Linked DNA regions of Homo sapiens: region 2 is linked to region 1. Evidence: fine-mapped expression QTL. A gene starts in region 1. The other region holds a variant in brackets. All regions are shown on one strand. Distances are from middle to middle. Region 1 holds the start of SLC7A6 (solute carrier family 7 member 6). Region 2 has its middle 5.8 kb from the start of DPEP2.

What was found. PIP is the estimated chance that this variant, and not a neighbour inherited with it, causes the effect.
Region 2: its variant is fine-mapped to the expression of SLC7A6 in whole blood (TOPMed, PIP 0.95).

Annotation. Positions count from the first base shown.
Region 1 is chr16:68,263,304-68,266,202 of GRCh38, reverse strand. It overlaps SLC7A6 (solute carrier family 7 member 6), which reads right to left and starts at 1,677. Exons shown (of 11, transcript NM_003983.6): 1 at 1,627-1,677. LOC124903704 (a long non-coding RNA gene) reads left to right here and starts at 1,746. Exons shown (of 3, transcript XR_007065096.1): 1 at 1,746-1,835; 2 at 2,789-2,899. RefSeq lists an enhancer at 1-1,139 and a silencer at 1,512-1,791.
Region 2 is chr16:68,003,855-68,006,753 of GRCh38, reverse strand. It overlaps the pseudogene KARS1P3. Among named protein-coding and RNA genes, the nearest start is that of DPEP2, 5.8 kb to the right of the region's middle. RefSeq lists an enhancer at 1-168. The variant T/C (reference allele first, on the strand shown) is at 1,348.

The sequences.
Region 1 (2,899 bases):
CTGCAACCTCCGCCTCCCGGGTTCAAGCCATTCTCCTGCCTCAGCCTCCCGAGTAGGTGGGACTACAGGTGCCCACCACCACACCTGGCTCAATTTTTGTATTTTTAGTAGAGACGGGATTTCACCATGTTAGCCAGGATGGTCTCGATCTCCTGACCCCGTGATCCGCCTGCCTCGGCCTCCCAAAGTGCTGGGATTACAGGACTGAGCCACCGCGCCCGGCCTGCATAACTTTTTTAGAAACTAATATACATCCAAGAAATTACAGCAGGAAGCACAAAGGTCAGGAAATTTCTTCTACTAAGAAGTTCCAGGGAGATGGGGATCATAAAACCGGTATATGCAATAAAAATACATCCACGGCCAAATAGGGAAGGAGGACAAGGAGAGGAAGAGAGGAGAAAATCAGGCTGGTGGTTTTCCACACACTTGCCAGGAAAATAAACTCCAGTGTAACGACTTGAATAACGATCTGAGATCAAAGTTGGGAAGCAAAAGCCGTCTGCGCAGCACACATGGGACCTGAGTAATGCAGGCAGCCTGGGCAGGTCCCCAAAAGGCCTCACCGCCACCAAAAAGAGGTGGAACTGATATAAGGAAGTACTCACAGCCTTTCAAGTCTGCTCCTCCCAGATCTGAAATCTGGGAGCAGTTCTGAGAGACAAGCCCCGGATGGCTGGGCACTGAACAGCCGCCCTGCGAGATGAGCTGCCCTGGCTTTTTCCCCTATCAAGGGCAGAGACTGAATTCTTTTTAACTGTGTCACCAAGCCCAGGGCATACAAGAGGTACTCAAAAACGTGTTCGCCGACACCCTGATTCCTATTTATACTGACCATTACACAACATGTTTGCTTAGAGCCCAGCAAAGAATTTTCAGAATGTTTCACGTCTATCTCCCCACATTCAGGAGAGATAGTCACACAAGATGACAGGCTATAGGGACGCTCAAAAGAGCCATAATCACCAGGGGCACGCGGGTTCCCCAGCGCCAGCAGCCCAACGCTCCAGGCTCCAGCACGCCACAAAACCTTGCGGCATTCTCTAAAGTAAAAGGACTGATTTTAAAATGATAATCGTCATTCTTGCGACAGCCCCAGGAAGCCTGGCTCCTGAGGTCCTGAGCCCGCGTCTTTCTTTGCCCCACCGCGGCCGCCACACAGCACAGGTTCTCCGTCCTGCAGTCGGAGGCGCAGTCACAGCCCCACTCAGGGTCACCGTCGCACAGTCTCACGCTCGCGGCGCGGCCCGCGCACTCAGCGTCCCGGTCACCCTCGCACCTGGGGTTTCCCTCTCCACACACACCCCCGGTCTCCCTCACACTCGCCGCGTCGCCAGCACACCCCAAGACTGGCTCCCTCGCGGTCACCATCAGCCTCCGGGGCTCGCACCCATACAGCGTTTCTCCCACACTCGGCCCTCACGCTCGAGGTCCCTCTCTCCTCGTGGCGCCCCCCCTCACCCGCAGCGCCTCTCGCGCGGCCCCGATCGGCCAGCCCCGCGCTGTTTCTGGGCCGCATCCCGCTCCCGACGGCGGCAGCGAAGACCCACAGGGTTCGGCTCCCACAGAACGCGGCCCAGCCCCGGCCCCGCTCCCGGCGCGCCCGCCCATGGCCCAGCCCGTTACCTCCCAGTGGCCCGGCGCCGCCAGGATGCTCGGTCGCGCCGCCGCCGCCGCGGCAGCTCAGGCCCCGCCCCGCCACGTCACCCGCCGCCGGATCGCGACAGCGCGCGCCGCGTCGGGACACAGTTCCGTGCGGGGCCAGCTGGCGGCGGCGCTTCCGGGCCCCCGTGGCCGCCACGGCCTGGCCGGTACGGGGTCCGCCGGCCCAGAACGTGAGCGTGGACGCCAGACAGCCCCCAGCTGCCTCGTCAGGGCTCGAGCAGCCCGTGAACTGGGCCCGGCCACGCTCGCCGCCCTGGAGTTAGATGGGGCCTCCGAGGGCGTCCACAGCGGACATTCCCGCGGGGAGCTCTCATCGGCCCCCGCACCCCGTTCCTATCTCGCACTTGACCTGGGCCCGACGCCCAGGGCGCCCCCTACAGCTCACACAGGGATCCAAACGGCCTCCGCCGCCGGGCCACTGCCACTCGCAGTCTAGGAACCCCAGGAAGACACACACTCTGGGGACTTGTCCAAACACACGCACAGCTCAGACTCGTAGCCCTTGAGGCCCCCGCACCCACAAAGAAACTGCAGGCTCCCTTTGCCAACCCCAGGCCTCCCTGGGGCTCTGTCCTCATCTTCCCAAGAGGGCTGCCACCCCTCTTGGGGGAGCTGCACCTCCTGCCCCCCCTCTTGGGGGAGCTGCACCTCCTGCCCCCTTCCCCTCCCTCTGTTTGCTCCTCCATCTTTCTCTCGAGTTCCTTTTCCTCTGGTGGCTCTGGGGCTCTCTGTCTAGAGCCTCCTGACCTCATGGGCGCCTGAGCCCTCCTCCGAAATTTCCTGTCCACACCTCAAGCACTGACTTTCTCCAGGGCCCTGGAATCTTTTCCCCCAGCCTTATGACCACAAGTACACGTCCTCTGGTTCCAGACCATACCCAAGACCCTGCTCCCTGCCACCCAGTGACAGGGACCCAGCCAGAGATGGGTAGCACCTCAGACCCTTCCTCCCCACTCCTCCCACGGCCTATACCTCGTTTTCTTCTCCCCAGCCACAACGGCTTCTCAATCCCTATCCTGCTCCCCTTACCCCATCTCCACAGAGTAGGGGATGCTCCTAGAATACAGATTGCGATGACTTTGTATCTCCCCTGCCTAAAACCCTTCCATTCTCCTCTCTGCAGGCCTGGGATGACAATACTTGAGGAATCCTCGCTGGTGCTGCCCTCCTGCCCTCTGCTTGGAACCCCTCCCCTAAGTGTCAGTGAGTGGACGTATATATTTGGATCAATCGA
Region 2 (2,899 bases), 260 kb after region 1:
CTATGTTAGCCAGGCTGGTCTCCAACTCCTGACCTCAGGTGATCCACCCACCTCAAGCTTCCAAAGTGCTGTGATTTCAGGCAAGAGCCACGTGCCCAGCCTAAAAAGAGCCCTTACCTTTTAGAGAGGCATACTTAAAAATGGATGAAATAGATGTCTATGATTTGCTTTAAAATAATCTGTAGAAAGAGGTGAGTGAGAGCATAAATGAAATAAGATGAGCCATCAGTTGGTAATCTTTGAAACTGGGTGATGGCTACATGGGAGTTAATACACTTTTCTCTCTCCTTTCTCATGTATTTGCAATTTTTCCTATAAAAAGTTTTTTGGTCTGGGCACAGTGGCTCATGCCTGTAATCCCAACACTGTGGGAGGCTAAGGTGGGAGGATCACTTGAGACCAGGGGTTTGAGACCAGCCTGGCAACATGGTGAAATCCCATCTCTACCAAAAAAAAAAAAAAAATTAGCTGGGTGTGGTGGCACCACCCTGTAGTCCCTGCTACTCGGGAAGCTGAGGTGAGAGGATCACCTGAGCCCCGAATTTGAGGCTACAGTGAGCCATGACGGCACCACTGCACTCCAGCCTAGGCCACAGAGGGAGATACAGTTTCAAAAAAAAAGTTTTGTGTTGTTGTTTTTAACTAAGCTTCTCAGATTCACCCAGATGCGGAGTCAGTGAGATCTCACATGGTCAGCTTCACAGGAGGGCAGGCTTTCTGCATAAAAACAGGAAGCTTAGAGAGCTCCGGGGCAGGGTGTGCTGTGACTTCACTGTGTTTTTGCAGAAACAGGTCTGATAGCCCTCGGAGATCAGCAGACAAGGTTAAGCAAGAGACAGCAAGTCTGAATTTGAGGTTAAATGTGAAATCACACATGTTGTCTAGATGTTTGGTCAGCACTGGCTCCTGGATCTTGGGGGCCTCTACAGAGCCCACCCTCCACCCCCATGTGCTTATGCCAGCACATGTGATAGCTGGAGACTTATCCAGCCACCTCACTGCACACCCCAGCAAATGGCCAGCACCAGTGGGTGATCAGGAAATGATGCCCGGACAAACTGATAGATGTAAGGAATTTGAGGCTGGGCACAGTGGCTCACGCCTGTAATCCTAGCACTCTGGGAGACTGAGGTGGGCAGATCCCTTGAGGTCATGAGTTTGAGACCAGCCTGGCCAACATGGAGAAACCCCTGTCTCTACTAAAAATAAAAAAATTAGCCAGGCATGGTGGCGTGCGCCTGTAATCCCAGGAAGCTGAGGTAAGGAATTTGAGGCCTTTCCTAGAGGCAGCAGCTGGAAGTGGAGGGATTGAAGGAACCCCTCATCTGACCAGCTGCTCAATTTTCT[T/C]ACCCACACGATAAGGCTGGTTCCTTAACTACACGGCCACGTGAAAAAAACAAAAAACAGGGCCAGGCACAGCGGCTCATGCCTATATTCCAGTACTTTGGGAGGCTGATGTGGGAGGATCACTTGAGGCCCGGAGTTCGAGACCAGCCTGGACAACATGACAAAACCCCATCGCTACTAAAAATGTGAATATTTAGCTGGGAGTGGTGGTGGGTGCCTGTATTCCTGGTTACTCTGGAGGATGAGGTATGAGAATCCCTTGAACCCTGGAGGCAGAAGTTGCAGCGAGCCGAGATTGCGCCACTGCACTCCAGCCTGAGCAACAGAGCAAGACTTCATCTCAAAAAAAAAAGAAAAAGAAAAAAAACACAATTTTGGGTCCAGGCCCTCTGGGAAGATGACTGCAGTACAAGGGGCCAAGGTTAAAGTGGATGGTGGTGAGTCAAAACTGAGCAAGAACAAGCCGAAGAGATACCTGAAAGCCGAGAAGAAAGTGGCAGAGAAGGCAGCCAAGCAGTAAGAGCTCAGTGAGAAACAGCTAAGCCCAGGTCACTGCTGCTGCCACCAACCATACCACTGACAATGGTGTGGGTCCTGAGGAGGAGAGCCTGGACCCAAATCAGTACTACAAGATCCACAGCCAAGGCCAGGCCCGGTGGTTCACTCCTGTAATCCTAGCACTTTGGGAGGCTGAGGCAGGCAGATCACTTGAAGTCAGGGGTTCGAGGCCAGCCTGGCCAACATGATGAAACCCCATCTCTACTAAAAATACAAAAATTAGCTGGGCATGGTGGCACATGCCTGTAATTCCAGCTACTTGGGAGGCTGAGGTAGGAGAATCGCTTGAATCTGGGAGGTGGAGGTTGCAGTGAGCTGAGATTGAGCCACTGCACTCCAGCCTGGGCAACAGAGCGAGACTCTGTCTCAAAAAAAAAAAAAAAAAAAAAGATTTGCAGTCAGGTAGGTCAATGGGAAAGACCCATACCCCAACGAGATCCATGTAGACATCTCCCTCACTGACTTCATCCCAGAATATTGTCACCTGCAAACTGGGGATCTCCTGACTGATATCACCTTAAACGTGACAGATAGGATCCATGCCAAAAAAGCTTTTGGAGGAAAGCTGAACTTCTATGATCTTTTTTTTTTTTTTTTTGAGATGGAATTTCACTATTGTTGCCCAGGCTGGAATGCAATGGCACAATCTCAGCTCACTGCAACCTCCTCCTCCCTAGGTTTAAGCAATTCTCCTGCCTCAGCCTCCCTAGTAGCTGGGATTACAGGCGTGCGCCACCACGCCCGGCTAATTTTGTATTTTTAGTAGAGGTGAGGTTTCTCCATGTTGGTCAGGCTGATCTCGAACTCCCAACCTCAGGTGATCTGCCTGCCTGCCTTGGCCTCCCAAAGTGCTGGGATTATAGGCGTGAGACACAGTGCCCAGCCATGAACTTCTATGATCTTTGAGCAGAGGGGGTCAAGTTGCAAGTCATGGCCAATTTCAGGAATTATAATTTCAGGAAGAATAATTTATTCATATTAATAACAAACTGCG